2 separate regions of the Homo sapiens genome follow, and region 1 is linked to region 2. Evidence: fine-mapped expression QTL. Tissue or cell type: whole blood. Region 2 holds a variant in brackets; the other region holds the start of a gene. All regions are shown on one strand. Distances are between the middles of the regions.

Region 1 (8,107 bases), 27 kb after region 2:
AAGTGGTCTTTTTAATTTAGTGGATAAAAGATGTCTTCTTTAATAAATAGCACTGGCATAATTGACTATGCAGCCACAAGAAAATCCACCTAAAGCTATATAAAAATTTAATTCCACATGGGCTACAGATCTAAAATTTCCAAGAACTATATTCAAATAAACCATGCTACATTAAACACAAACTACTACCTCCTCATACATAAAAAATAAGACAATGAAAATGTTCAATGGTTTAGAAAAATCAGACTGTATTAATCAACTAAATAACAGAAATAATAAATTGAATTTATTGTAACAGAGTTGCAATAATGCAAAGAACACTGAACTAAGTTGGTGTCACTAACTGGCTGTGACTTTGGCCAAGGCATTTAATTTACCTGTGTAGAAGTTTCCTCACCTACAAAATTAAAATATTATCAACCTTGAAATTTGTTGTGAAGCTTAGATATAATTTATTATCTGGCTGAGTACTTGAAGCATAACAGGTGATCAGGTATGATAAATATTACTGAAAGTTTTAAGATGGAATAGCATTACCATAATCCTATAGCATCTTTCTTCCCTAGAGATTCTTAAGGTCCAAGAACAAAATTCTAATACCCACGCCCCACTAGTTAGATCAGTCAAGGGACACAGGAGCTCCCTGAACTCCAGACTCATAAATCAAAATCACGGCAGGTCTCAAACAAGATAAACAAAACCAAACTCCCCTAAACCTGATCATCCCACATTCTTCCACATCTCAGGAAATGGTTAACTCCATGCTTCTAGTTGCTCAAGCCAAAAACCTTGGACTTCTCATCTTCTCTCCTCTCACTCCTACATCTGATCCTTCAGAAGATCATGTTAGCTCCACCTTCCAAACAGGTGACAAGAGAATCCAGCTACTCTAACCAGCTCTCTACTGCTCCTGCCCTGGGCCAAGCGGTCACCACTCTAAGAACTTACTGTACAATATTAAAATAGATAGCAATATATATTAATTCACTGGTTTCCCTGCTTCCCTCCTACCCTCTTCGGTCTGTTTTCCACAGAGCAGCCCAAATGAGCCTTTAAAGATATAAGTAATTTCAGGTCATTTACTCCTCCTCCCCACTTCAGGTTTCCAGTCAAATGTCACCCTAACAGTGACTTCCCTGACCAATGTACGTTTTTTAAGTCTCCACTTCTGCCCGCACACCATGTCCTCCTTACGCTGTTTATCATACACGGTGCATACCAATTTTCACAATATAGCATGTTATTTACATGTTTATCTGTTTATTGTCTATTTCTCCCCAATAGAGGTAAAGTCCTTGGAGGCAAGACACTGTTTTGTTCACTGCTATATTCCCAACACCCGGAAGAGTAACTTAATATAAGATTACATTCAATAAGGAATTTTGAAAATTCATTGGTAATCTCTTTAGAATGGTGCTAATTTTTTTTTCCAGACAAATTACTGCTCAATGTGAGCTAAAGTAATGGCATCCAAGTCAAACAAAAGATAAATTAGGGAGCCGATTAATGCTTTAGTAAAGGACTTAATAAATAGTATGTCAATAAAGTATCTTCATTTAAAAAGTTCCTCAAAGTGCCGGGTGCGGTGGCTCACGCCTGTAATCCCAGCACTTTGGGAGGCCAAGGCGGGCGGATCACCTGAGGTTGGGAGTTCAAGACCAGCCTGACCAACATGGAGAAACCCTGTCTCTACTAAAAATACAAAATTTGCCGGGCATGGTGGCACATGCCTGTAATCCCAGCTACTCGGGAGGCTGAGGCAGGAAAATCGCTTGAACCCAGGAGGCAGAGGTTGCGGTGAGCCAAGATCGCGCCATTGCACTCTAGCCTGGGCGACAAGAGTGAAACTGTCTCAAAAAAACAAAACAAAACAAAAAAGTTCCTCAAAGTAAACTTTGAAGTAGAATTTACATAAAACAATTGAGTTTACTCTGCAAAATATTGTGGTGCTTTGTGTTCCAGAACAATAGTTTTACAGCGTAGATAAACCAGGAAGTGGTTCATCTTTAATTTAAATTTGGTTCTTCTTTCATAGTTTTTATAGTTCTTCTGGCTCTTCAACTGTAAACTTCCTTTATTAAATTTATTTACGAACTGATTCAAAGTTCAACAAATTAAAGTTTCATTCTAGGTTTTCACTTGTAATTCTGATCAAGTCTCCCACTCATACACAGCTTTCTAGAAATACAAAAGAAAAACGTACAGACATTTAAATACAACTTGGCTTTTTATTTTTGGTAATAAAATGTCCACATCAAATGACTACTCAACGTGATGTGCTTGCAAATAGCACCTTCTCTCTCATTTCAGCATGTAAGAATAGGCTATTATAGAAATAAACCTGTTGCTTAAATTCGACAATGCAGGCATTTCCAATCACCAAATCACAAAGGCAATATGCTTTCCATGCCATCTTTACTTCGCAAAGCAAAAATGATGTTGTTTTCATTTTTTTTTTTTTTTACAGAATTCCAAAGTAACAGCATGCGTCATTTATTACATGGAAAAAGTCAAAATCTGTATCTAAGTATATAGACATATACGTATTAATTGCACGGAATATTACTGATCCCATGAAAATTCTTTAGACAATTTTAATACTGTACTGACATAAAAGAACCTCTTTCCTAAAACCCACTTATCATGTACCATCACTAAAAAAAACCGAGAAAATTATTTTTTAAATTCTTCTCTACGGTGAAAGCCAATGGGAAGAGCTGGTGCCGCGCGATGTACATCACTGCAATCGTCAGATAAGAGGCAGCGGTTCTCATAAAGACGCGGTGGCTCACGCCTGTAATCCCAGCACTTTGGGAGGATGAAGGCGGGTGGATCACGAGGTCAGGAGGTCGAGACCAGCCTGGCCAACATAGTAAAACCCCGTCTCTACTAAAAATACAAAAAAATAGCCAGGCATGGTGGTGGGCACCCGTAATCTCAGCTACCGGTGAGGCCGAGGCAGGAGAATCTCTTGAACCCAGGAGGCGGAGGTTGCAGTGAGCCGAGATCACGTCATTGCAGTGCGGCCGGGGCGACAATGTGAGACTCCGACTCAAAAAAAAAAAAAAGAGTGCAATCTGCGATTCTGCTAACAGACCTGCGAGGTCTGCAGCCCTGTCCGCTAAGGGTGACTCAGAGACTGCCAGTGGCAGGCAACGGCCGGCGATAGCAACAGGCAGCCATGACAACAGCAGGCCACGATGACATCACACAGCCATAACAACAAAGCAGATGCGCAGGTGAGTGTCCAGCTCTCCAGTTATACTCAGAGATGAGAAAGACGACAATGGGCAAATTCCGGGAGTCCGGGGCAGGGAGAAAGGGGACCTTAAGGATCTCCAGCCGTCCCGCCCCGCCCACTCGAGCAGTCCCTACCCGCCTCCCAAGACGCCTGGGAAGAGCAGTGGAACCAGGGAGAGCACGAACAGCAAAGAGGTCAGACATGGGGAATCCGGGCACCCAGGCTCCGGGAAGACGGCGCACGGAAACGCAGGGGAGCCTGCACCGGCTGACGGCGGCGGAAAAGGGCGAACGAAGCGCCTGAGGGCCCTGGCAGCACTCACCAGGGTCGTTCCAGCCCAGGGCAGGGCCCGCGGTCAGCAGAAACAAATGCAAGCCGAGGAGCAAGCAGTACCCGGCCGCTCCCGGCCCGCAGGCTGCGGCCATGGCGCTCGATGAAGATGGCGCCGGGCTGCCAGACGCCTACGGGCCGAACCTGGGTGCGGTAGCGCGCGCGACGCTGCGCAGCTACACCGCTACCCCTGGCGGCGGCGAAGGAACGGCCCGACTGCAGAGCTGCAGCCGCAACGGATCCGTGCGCCAACCCTACGTCACTGCCGCTGCGGCCCGTGGGGCTCAGTGAGTGGCCGCCGTGGGCCCCCGCCCCTGGAGCACAGCGCGGCTTGGGGCGGGGCGAGGCGGTGTGGGCGGGGCCAAGGGCCTGGGGAGGCACGGCTGGAGGCGGGTTGGAGGCGTGGCGCCGCGGTGTGGGCGGGGCCGAGGGCCTGTCGCCGCCGCGCCCGCGGGCGGGGCGAGGGCAGCGCGCAGCTTTGTTGTGTCTCGTCTGAGATTCGGGAAGCTTCTGTGCGTAGGCGATGCAGTTTGAGAGGCTGAAAACGTCACGACGCGAAATCTAAGAAATGTAGTCAAATTATGTATTATTAAAACCTCAATAATTGTACCAAGGGTAGTTCTGTGCTTTATTCAGCTCTATGTGTTCAGCACTTAGCATAGCGCTTGGTACATGGTTAGTGTTCTATGACTGGTTGCTAAATACAGAGAAGATTCAAGCGAAAAGTAACAGGGAAATACATTGTCTGGTTTCAAGGCTCAGAACCTTTACATGGTTCCTTGCGCATGGAGGCCGGAAGACTATAAAATGTCAAGAGGAGAAAATATCGTCTGAATGAAGAACCAGCCAGAGAAAACAGTTCTCTGGGCTTTTGAGGTCTAGCAGGCTTGGGTTTCTTTCATTCATTCATTCATTCATTCATTCATTCATTCATTCAATGAATATATGTTGAATACCTAATACGCACCAGGCACTGTTTTAGGCATGGATGGTACAGACAAGATCCCTGTACTCATTGAAATAGAATAGGACAAACGACATACCAATTAAACAACAAAAATAATAGGTAATGATAGGTAATAACATTGATGAAAAACAGGGTGATATAATGGAGCCTGGGGACACAACTTCAGGGAGGGCCTTGCTGAGGAAGTGGTTTTTGAAGCTTGGGACCTGAATGATGAGAAAGAACTAGCCGTACAAAGATCAGGGGACTCATCTTCCCATCTGGGGAACAGTGGATGCAAAAGCCCTAACTTTGTGTTTCGAGGAAGAGTTATTTGGTCAGATCCTATAAAGAGTTCAGTCCCACAAGATGGCCCCAACTTCAGACATCAATCACAAGTCTCAGGTTGTGACCTATGCTTCTGACCAACCAGCTATAAATTAGGGTTTCCAGGCCGGGCGTGGTGGCTCATGCCTGTAATCCCAGCATTTTGGAAGGCCAAGGCAGGTGAATCGCCTGAGGTCAGGACTTTAAGACCAGCCTGGCCAGCATGGCAAAACCCCACCTCTACTAAAAATAGGAAAAATAGCTGGGCGTGGTGGTGCACACCTGTAATCCCAGCTATTTGGGAGGCTGAGGCAAGAGAATCGCTTGAACCTGGGAGGCGAAAGTTGCAGTGAGTCAAGACTGCCCCACTGCACCTGGACCATGGAGAGAGACTCCCTCTCAACAAATAAATTGGGGTTTTCATAACCCCCCATCTTGAGTTCCATAATTTGCTAGAATGGCTCACAGAACTCAAAAAAACACTTTATGTTTACCAGATTATTATATTGAGCACCTATTAGTACCTAACAGTACCTGCCAGGCACTGTTATCAGTATTGGGGATACAGCAGTGAATAAAACAAAATTTGGGGGACAAGAGGCAAACAAGGCCATAACTGAAGCAAAGTAAGTTAGGGGAAGAGTGGAATAAGAGATGGCAGAGCAGTGGGGCCTCGGCATGGAACCAACCAATGCTGGGACCAAGGACTGAAATAAGAGATAATAGAGAATCTATGCTCAACATGTTAAGTTTGAGGTGACTATTAGGCATCCAGGTAGACGTGTCAAATAAATAGATAAACTGTAAAAGTCTGAAGTTCAAAACTAAGGTAAATTTGGTAGTTATGTTGTAAATATAAAGATAGCATTTAATGTCATGATGCTATTGTTTGAATGTGTCCCCCAAAGCTCATGTGTTGGAAACTTATTCCCCAAAGCAATAGTGTTGAGAGGGGGGACTCTTAAGGGGTGATTAGGTTATGAGGGCAGAGCTCTTAATGCTATTATCACAGGAGTGGGTTAGTTATTGGGGAGTGGGTTCCCGATAAAAGGGATGAGTTCAGCTCCCTTTCTCTTTTGCCTACCACCGTGAAATGACACAGCAGGAAGCTCCCCACCAGATGCAGGCCCCTGGACCTAGGATTTCCCAGCCTCCAGAACCATAAGAAATAAATCTCTATACTTTATAAATTTCCCAGTCTCAGGTATTCTGTTATAGCAACACAAAATGAACTAAGACATGTGGGAAGAGACACAGTAACATGAGAGAATTGAGATACCACAAAAAAGGAGGCCCAGGCTATGGAAACACTAACATTTGAACCTCAAGCAGAAGATTCTAGAAAGAATCTGAGAAGTAACCTCTGGTGAAGAAGGAGGAAGAACTAGGACAATAGGATATGGTAATTGAGAGAAAGAAAGAATGGTCAACAGTGTCCACTGTTGCTGAAAGCTTGAAGCAAAATTTGGTCTCTGAATTTTGCAATGTAGAAATCACTAATTACCTTAACAAGAGAATGTTTGTTATTTTAGATTCCCACCATGTACCATGTACAGTTCTGGACAGTCATGAACAAAAGATGAAAGGTTGTTATAATAAACATTCTAGTGGGAGAGGTAGCCAACAAATCATGTCATTTCAAATAAATAAGTGCTTTGGGCCAGGCACGGTGGCTCACACCTGTAATCTCAGCACTCTGGGAAGCCGAGGCTCAGGATCACTTGAGACCAGGAGTTTGAGGCCAATCTGGGCAACATAGTAAGACCCCATCTCCACAAAAAATTGTTTTTAAAAAATTAGCCAGATGTGGCCAGGCACAGTGGCTCACGCCTGTAATCCCAGCACTTTGGGAGGCCGAGGTAGGCAGATCATGAAGTCAGGAGATCGAGACCATCTTGGCTAACACAGTGAAACCCCGTCTCTACTAAAAATACAAAAAATTAGCTGGGCATGGTGGCGGGTGCCTAAGTCCCAGCTACTCAGGAGGCTGAGGCAGGAGAATGGTGTGAACCCGAGAGGCGGAGCTTGCAGTGAGCCAAGATCGCACCACTGCACTCCAGCCTGGGCGAAAGAGTGAGACTCCGTCTCAAAAAAAAAAAAAAAATAGCCAGATGTGGTGGCATGTGCCTGTAGTCCCAGCCACTCAAGAGGCTGAGGTGGGAGGATCACTTGAGCCCTGGAGGTTGAGGCTGCAGCAAGCCATGACTGCATCACTGCACTCCAGCCTGGGCAACAGAGCAAGACTCTATCTCAAATAATAATAAGTACCTTGAAGAAGAAAACAGAGCAATATGACAGGTAGTGCCATAACAAGTAGGATGGCCCAGAAAAGATTCTCTGAGAAATTACCATTTGAGCTGAGAGCTAAATGATGAGGCTGTAAAAGGAAAAAACAAACTGTTTTCTCCTTTCTACTGGCACAAAACACAGAGCAGTTCTGTGACCAGAAGAGGGGCTGGGGGAGTATTTCCCTACACACCAACCAACTCTAAAGGACATCAACACGATGTCCTATAACTCAATTCAAGTTAAGGGCCCAGTCTCCCACAAGACTGCCCCAATTCAGACGTCAGTCCAGGAAAATATTTTATGTTTACCAGTTTATTGTAAAGGATTTATAAAGGATACAGATGAACAGCCAGATGAAGAGATGGATAGGGCAAAGATAAGAAGGCCATGGGGCTTCCATGCCCTCGCTGGGCACTCCACCCTCCCAGCACCTCCCTGTATTCAGCAACCTAGAAGCTCATGAAATCTTGTTGTCTAAGAGTTTGTATAGAGCTTAATCTCCAGCCACCCGCCCCCGATCTCTCCTGTTGGTTGGTGGGTGGGCTGAAATTTCCAACCCTCTAACACTCTAATCACATGGTCTTTCTGGTGACTGACTTTTTGGTGTCTGTAAACAATACAGTATAACAACTATTTACATAGTATTTACATTGTTATTAGGTATTATAAATAATTTAGAGATTATTTAAAGTATACAGGAGGGGCTGGGTGCGGTGGCTAACACCTGTAATCCCAGCACTTTTGGAGGCCCGAGGTGGGTGTATCACTTGAGCCCAGGAGTTCGAGACCAGCCTGGGCAACGTAAGAAGACCTTGTCTCTACAAAAAAAAAAAAAAAAAAAAATTAGCCAGGCATAGTGGTGCATGCCCGTGGTCCCAGCTACTCGGGAGGCTGAGGCAGGAGGATAGCTTGAGCCTGGGAGGCAGAGGTTACAATGAGCCGAAATCACACCACTGCACTCCAGCCTGGGTGAC
Region 2 (8,107 bases):
GTTCTTTTCCATCCATATTCCTATGCAGGTCACAGTGGTGTCCTCCTCCCTCACTTCCCAGGTAATAGCTCTCCAGGTTAAAACCACATATGCAGACATTCTTCCCAACACACTCATTGTGCCCTTGTGGATCCAGGACAATTCCAGTTCCAGACATAGCCACAAGCTAACCCAGAACCCACTTTTTCCCAAGACTATGTAGAATCGGGTAATAACCCAGAATTCCCGGTCTTCACTCATCCTTCTCTCCCCTAAGAGCTGCCTCTAACCATCCAAAAGGTACTATTTATGAGGAAGTCCAAAAGAGATGTGTGAGAGATACTGCATACTCTTCCAGTAGCCACCTGGGTTTCCATGAAAATGTACTTCTGCTTAAGCAAACTTTCATCTCTGCATATTTTAAAAAGCAGCCTTCATCAAGCCCTTTTTAAAAGGCTTTGTTGTACATTTCCCCAAGAGCAATAGATGTCTGCTTACCCTATCTTTACTTATGAACCACAAAGAACAAAGAAGATCCGCTTTGGAATGACTCACTTTATCCTCCCATGCAGGAAGATCAAAGGCCAAGTTTAAATGGCAGCTTCTCTGACATCCATATCTTAATTACAGTCTGGGTGCCACATTTAAGCATAAATCTTATTCTAGAAATATATCTTATAAATCTAAACACATGTACATTAAAGATCTAAACTATAATAAAGTCTCTGACTCCAGTGTTTGGAGCAGCTACAACATAAACTCATGTACAAAAGATATGTTCGGATGTTCATTATTGCATTGTTGAAAATAGGGAACAAAATTGAAAATGTGGTAAATGTATATTGATATTGATAAAGGAATGGTGAGATTAAATTATAATATATCCATATGATGGAATACTATGCAGCTGTGAAAAGAATAGATTTATTCTTTGTGAAAAAATTCTGGACATTGTGTATAATTTCTATAATAATAACCAAAAAATGTTAACAGAAATTATTTCTAGGTAGAGAGACCACACTGAGAGGATGAAACGAAGGGGGCCGTGGGGAGTTGGGCAGATATAGACTTTTTTCTTTTTGGAGACAGGGTCTTGCTCTGTCGTGACTGACACGGTCATAGCTCATTGCAGCCTCAGACTCCTGGGCTCAAGTGATCCTCCTACCTCAGCCCCCTGAGTAGCTGAGATTACAGGCATGTGCCACCATGCCTAGCCAGATACAGACTCTTTCTTTTCTCTTTATATCCTTCTAAACTGTTCGAATGTTTTACAAAGAACTTGCATTGCTTTTCTTTTTTCAATTATGAAATATGCATATTTTAACTTATATATAGTTGTGAATGATTTATCTATATAATTTAATTAAATATAATTTAACTTGATAAATACTCATAATTTTGAATATTTTAATGTAAGGAAGAAATGTGTCTTTTCTCCTTTAATAAGGAAAGATTGTGCTGGGGATTTAAAAAACAAAAAACAACAACAACAAAAAAAAACATGATCAAACCTAGGTAGATGACCAGATGGTGGAGGATCCAAAAGCTAGGTAAAGTAAGAAATGATTGAGAGTGTTTTGGATTTTTAACTTGAATAAAAAATAGAGCTGTCTTCAAATATCTACAGTAAGGGAATTCCACTTTTATGTTTGTGAGGGCAAGATGATTTGAACCAATCCTATCACACACGGAAACTAACAAAACTGAGCAAAATATGAAAAGACATCTTCCCGAAGGCATCACAGAGCTAGCAAAATCATGAAGATTTACTATTTCTGGATCCAGGGAAGACAGGAACTCCTATAAATTATGTGGGCATTATTCCCATCCTGCCCTTCATCCACTAGAAAATGATTTACTTAGAAACAATGTGAAACATTGTGATACACAATAAGGCATTCTGTAAATCTACATATCATGGTTTCAACAACAGCCTTTCGAGTGGGAAGGGCCAATCCAAACCCAGAGTAAATGTCTACTTCAGTGACAACAAATCATTGCCCCTTTCATGATAGAAGTGGTCTCATGTAATCAACATGCCACCAGATGGTGGGCTGATTTCCCCAGGGAATTGAACCGTATTCAGGGTTCAGTGTTGGCCTCTGCCGTTGGGAGATAGGGCACTCAGCAGCGGTTGTAACCTGATCGGTTTTGGTGAATGGAAGACCCTTTTGCTGAATCGATGGATAACTTTCATCCCTACCACCTTAGCCACTTTGTTTATGAGCCAATGAAACAGGAGTAGGGCTTGCTGAAAAAAAGAGGCTGAATAATAGCCACAGAAAATGTCATCTTATGAAGTGACTTAAGATGCAACGTTCTGTCGGGGACATGAACTACTTACTGATCCTAATACTCTGAGTGGATGGTTTCCTGAGGGATGATGGCTTCCTGCTTGGATGTGATGATGCCTATAGTAAGCAAGGTGGAGATGCCAGAATTTCTGTGATATTCTACTACTCAGGTAGTTGTAAGCATGTATATTGGACAAAAAAAAAAAATCTCATCTTTGTTAAGAGAGGACCATACATCTACATTTCCCCCAGATATCCTTATCAATTTTTCTTTCTTTTTTTTTTTTTTTTTGGAGACAGAGTCTCGTTCTGTCACCCAGGCTGGAGTGCAGTGGCACGATCTCATCTCACTGCAACCTCTGCCTCCTGGGTTCAAGTGATTCTTCTGCCTCAGCCTCTCGAGTAGCTGGGACTACAGGTGTGTGCCACCACGCCTGGCTAATTTTTTGTATTTTTAATAGAGACAGGGTTTCACTGTGTTAGCCAGGACGGTCTCGATCTCCTGACTTTGTGATTTGCCTGCCTCAGCCTCCCAAAGTGCTGGGATTACAGGCGTGAGCCACTGCGCCCAGCCTAATTTTTGTATTTTTAGTAGAGATGGGGTTTTACCATGTTGGCCAGGCTAGTCTCTAATGCCTGACCTCAGATGATTCGCCCACCTCGGCCTCCCAAAGTGCTGGGATTACAGGCATGAGCCAGCTTGCCCAGCTTTATCGTCAATTTTTCAGTCTCATTTTTCCAAGCCCCTGGTCACCCATTCAAACCAGAAACCACTGTCTATTTTGAAAAGTGTAGATACATATGTCTTGCCATCTCTTATTTCAGATGCATAGCTCAAAATTCCACCCCCTCAGGGCACTTCCCTTCACTGTCCTTCCAGGTGGTATCAGCATATCATGCAGATCCATTTGTAAATCAGGCTACTCTTGACTTGCTGTCCTGTATGGAATTCCATCCACCTTGGTTGGCTCTGACAATGAAGAGATGCAATTTGCCACTTCGGAAACCCACTATCTCTGTTAATCTTGGGAAGTCCATTTTCATGACAGCATTTCCCACTATTAACCTTTGCCTACAGAGGACAACTATCATTGAGCCCTTAAAAATGCTAATAACTCTCTCACCAGTACCTTCCTTACTACCTTGGTAAAGGGAGATGCTCTGAACCCTCAGAGTAGAGTCAAATGTTGGATTATTCAGTCTCATAAGTAAATTCTAACATCCCACTTCCTTGAGTCTTCAGATACTGTGCTCAATACTATACCATAGAAAGTCTGGCATCTCTACCTCACTTACGGTAGGCATCATCACATCCAATCAGGAAACCATCATCATCCATCAAGAAACCATCCCAGAAAATTATTAGAACCAGTAGCTCATGTCTTTGACAGAACATTGAATCCCAATTCACAGGTGAACATAAAGGACTTCTCTTTCCACCATATTTCACCCCTCCCACAGCCCAACTTCCAGATGAATTTCCACATGGTTTATCCCTACTCTCGCTGGTACATATTAGCTGTATGGTACCATGATTTTTTTAGTATGTGACCTATTTCCTCCCAAGGCAAGTGCTATAATTCCAAGAGGTTATCATTCTTTTGCTGTGTGGCTTATTTCCTCCCAAAGCAGGGACTGTCTTTCCCTGTTAAGGTTGAGATCTGACTCTAGTTATTGGCCTGGAGGCAGAGATGTGGCAGGACTCAGTTTTAAGAAAAAATGCTATCTTACAAGGCATCTGCTTCAGGTGAGGCCGTTACATGGTCTCTAGACAAGGAAGGCTAATCCCCTTCAGCAAGAAGGAAGGGGCTGCTATGCCAGAAAGAAAGACTTAGGAAGATGTCGATGTTCAAGTTCTTCTGATTC[C/T]TTGAACAGTCCAATTCCAAAATTCCATCCTGTACAACTTTCACACCAATTGTCTTAACACAAGTCCTCTAGAAAGCAGAACTCAAGCAAAAAAAAAGAAAAACATTTCTGGCACTTGGACAGAAGCATGTCCAAAGACACAGGGTGAGGGAAAAAAGTGAGACAAATAAAGATGTGATGCAATGGCATGCAATGGATTGCGGCACTGCTTCACAATGAGCTACAGACACACAGTAGGTCGCTTTGCAGGCAGGTTCACTCTGCACAAAGGACTTCTCCAGAAGAGTTGCAAAAAGAAAACACATCTTGCAGTAATCCCTGAAAAGATAGGAATTTATTTCCCATTGGTCATTGCTCATTCCATTGAGCTAATTCCCTAAACAACTGAGTTGCACCATCTGGGCTCCCGGCAGCCACACAGGAAACCATATTCCACACCTTGCAATGTGTCGTCTTATTCAAATCTCAAAGTGGAGGGGTGACCTGGTGTGGGTGTGACACCAACCACGTGAAAGGAGAAGGCAGTTAAGAGCCTCTGAGAAGGTGTACAAGTGGTGCTGATATAGTGGATTTGGAAGTTCCAGTGCACAAGGAAGGAATGCTTCCACCAGGAAACACTGTCACGATGAATTGGAAACCTGAGACTGTCCTTGGACAGTTTGGGCTCCTCATGCTACTGAACAAATGGACAAAGTAAGGGGCCACTCTAACAGGTAATTCATCCTAATTATCAAGGGAAAATTAGGTTGCTGGCCAGGCGCGGTGGCTCATGCCTGTAATCCCAGCACTTTGGGAGGCCAAGACGGGCGGATCACTTGAATTCAGGCGTTCATGACCAGCCTGGCCAACATGGTGAAACCCCGTCTCTACTAAAAATACAAAAATTAGCCAGGCATGGTGATGGGCACCTGTAATCCTAGCTACCCTGGAGACTGAGGCAGGTGAATCACTTGAACCCAGGAGGCAGAGTTTGCAGTGAGCCAAGATCACACCACTGCACTAAAGCCTGGGCAACAGAGCAAGACTATTCTGAAAAAAGAAAAAAAAATGAATATTAAAATGACTCTTGAGCTTGCCCAATAACCTGGACCTATCACAGAGCCTTCTTTTGTTCTAGGCTCCTGTTAAAACTAGCAGCTTTGCGATCAGTCAGTAAATGGACTAGAGTTGCATACCACATAAGGAATATGTTGCCCGCAAGATCCACTAGGTATTGCATCATTTTTTTCATCTGGAGCCAGATGTAACGATTTATCCTTGGCCTTAGAAAGATATTTCAACATGTCCCATACTACTGGACTCCTAGAAATTTCCCTGAGGTAGAAAGCCCCTGAATCTTTGTCAGATTTGTTTCCCACCCTCTAACATACAAATGCCTTACCAATACATCTACAGTAGTTGCTACTTCTTGGTAGTTGCTCTTCTTGCTCATCAGATCCAATCAGCTTAATATAATAAATGTCATGGACCAGTGTGAAGTCTTGTGGAAGGGAAAGGTAACCAAGGTCCTTGCAGACTAAATTATGACATAGGACTGAAAAGTGAAGGTGTATTGCTGGCCCTGCCAGCTGAAAGCAAGCTGCTTCTGATGGTGTGTACTAACAGGTATGGAGGAAAAGCATTTGCCAGAGCACTTGTGTTTCAACTACCAGATATGTTCATGTACCCAAGTGATGAAACTACATCTGGAACAGCAGTTGCAATTGAAGTCACCATCTGGGTAAGTTTATGACAACCTATTATTACTCTCTATCCGTTTTCGGCACAGGCCAAATAGGCGAGTTGAATGGGGATGTGGTAGGAAGCACCAGCCCTATATCCTTCAAGTCCTTGATGGTGGCATTAATCTCTGTAATCCCTCCAGAAAGGCAGAACTTACTATCTCACGGTTCTAGAGGCTGTGAGTCTGATATCCAGGTGGTAGCAGGGCCATGCTCCCTCTGTATGTGCTGAGGAAGGATCTGTTCCAGGCCTGACTCTCAGCTTCTGGTGGTTTGCTGGTAATCTTTGGCATATATTGGCTTTTGGCAGAACTCCAGACATTACATGATTATTTCTGTTTGTGTGTCTGTGTCCAAATTTCCTCATTTTATAATGACATGAATCATTGGTGTTCACTCTACTCCAGTATAACCTCATCGTAATTTCATCTGCAGTAACCCTGTTATGGTTTGGATGTTTGTCCCCTCCAAATCCCACATTGAATGTGATTCCCAATGTTGCAGGTGGGGCCTGGTGGGAGGTGTTGGGAGCATACAGGAGGATTCCCTCATGAATGGTTTAGCACCATCCCCCTCGTGATGAATGAGTTCTTGCTCAGTTAGTTCACACAATATCTGGTTGTTTAAAAGTCTGGGACCTGGCCAGGTGCGGTAGCTCACACCTGTAATCCCAGCACTTTGGGAGGCCAAGGCAGGAGGGTCACTTGAGGCCAGGAGTTCAGCCAACATGGTAAAACCCTGCCTCTATTAAAAAAAAATACAAAAATTAGCCACGTGTGGTGGCACACACCTGTAATCCCAGGTACTCAGGAGGCTGATGCAGGAGAATCACTTGAACCCACGATGCAGAGGTGAGGTGAGGCAGTGAGCCAAGATCACACCACTGCAGTCCAGCCTGGGTGACAGAGCAAGACTCTGTCTCAAAAAAAATCAGTCAATCAATCTGGGACCTCCCTCCCTCGCTCTCTCTTGCTCCCACTCTCACCATGTGACGCACCTGTTCCCTGCACCTTCCACCATGATGGGAAGCTTCCCAAGGCATCACCAGGAGCAGATGCCGGCACCATGCTTCCTGTACAGCCTGCACAACTGTGAGCCAATTAAACCTCTTTATAAATTACTTGGTCTCCGGTATTCCTTTATAGCAACACAAATGGACTAACATAGACTCTATTTCCAAATAAGATCACATTCTGAGGCACAGAGCTCAGGCACTTTCTGTGTCCCTCCATTTCACCCCATTTCCTCACTCCAACTCTCCCTAGTCGCCTTCATCTCTAACTTGGATGTTCTTCCAATTGGGATTCCCCACAAGTCCTCTCAGCCCCTTTAATCAAGTGTCCATATCACAGCCACTATTGGTTTATCATTTTTGTAGATAGAGGTAGTTCTAGTGACTTTCACTTGGCCTATGCCACCATAACAGCCTTCATTCCACAGGTCAGGGACCCAACGTAGAGATTCTGCTAGTTGCTGAGTATGTCTATTCTAATCCTGCATTCTAGAACGCAGGTTCCATTCCTGTGTAATAATCACAGGATCATTCGAGGGACCCATGGGACTCACTGTGAAATTGATCTGAGCTAAAACTCTATAAGCTCTTACTCTGACTGGTGGACCACAGTAATGTTTTGAGCCTCCTGGAATTAGCATCAATTCAGTGTCCAGTAATCCCTAAACTATCTGATTATTTTCCCTTTCCCCAGGGCATAGTTACCCCAGTAAATAGCCACGGGTCCATTGAGGGAAGACTGGGGGAAAGATAAACAATATAAACCTGGCAATGTGGTAGGGTTCTTCCTCAAGGGGAACCCAGCCTCTCCTTCATTGAAGGGATTCTGGAGCTATAAACCAGCTCAAGTCTAGGAAATGATTCAGAGGCTATGACTCACTTGTGGTGACTTAAGATAGACTTCTGTTGGCTGGGCACAGTGGCTCACACCTATAATCCCAGCACTTTGGGAGGCCGAGGCGGGCGGATCACCTGAGGTCAGGAGTTTGAGACCAGCCTGGCCAACTTGGTGAAACCCTGTCTCTACTAAAAATACAAAAATTAGCCAGGCATGGTGGCAGGCGCCTGTAATCCCAGCTACTCGGGAGGGTGAGGCAGGAGAATTGCTTGAACCTGGGAGGCAGAGGTTGCAGTGAGCCGAGATCATGCCCCTGCTCTCTCCAGCCTGGGTGACAGAGTGAGACTTGGTCTCAAAAAAAAAAAAAAAAAAAAAAAAAAGACTTCCGTTTACTCAG

What was found. PIP is the estimated chance that this variant, and not a neighbour inherited with it, causes the effect.
Region 1: SARAF starts here. The variant in region 2 is fine-mapped to the expression of SARAF in whole blood (TOPMed, PIP above 0.99).

Annotation. Positions count from the first base shown.
Region 1 is chr8:30,079,284-30,087,390 of GRCh38, forward strand. It overlaps SARAF (store-operated calcium entry associated regulatory factor), which reads right to left and starts at 3,781. Exons shown (of 6, transcript NM_016127.6): 1 at 3,564-3,781. The coding sequence starts at 3,666. RefSeq lists an enhancer at 3,345-3,694 and a silencer at 3,735-4,104.
Region 2 is chr8:30,052,166-30,060,272 of GRCh38, forward strand. No RefSeq gene overlaps it. Among named protein-coding and RNA genes, the nearest start is that of SARAF, 27 kb to the right of the region's middle. RefSeq lists an enhancer at 4,775-5,974. The variant C/T (reference allele first, on the strand shown) is at 4,140.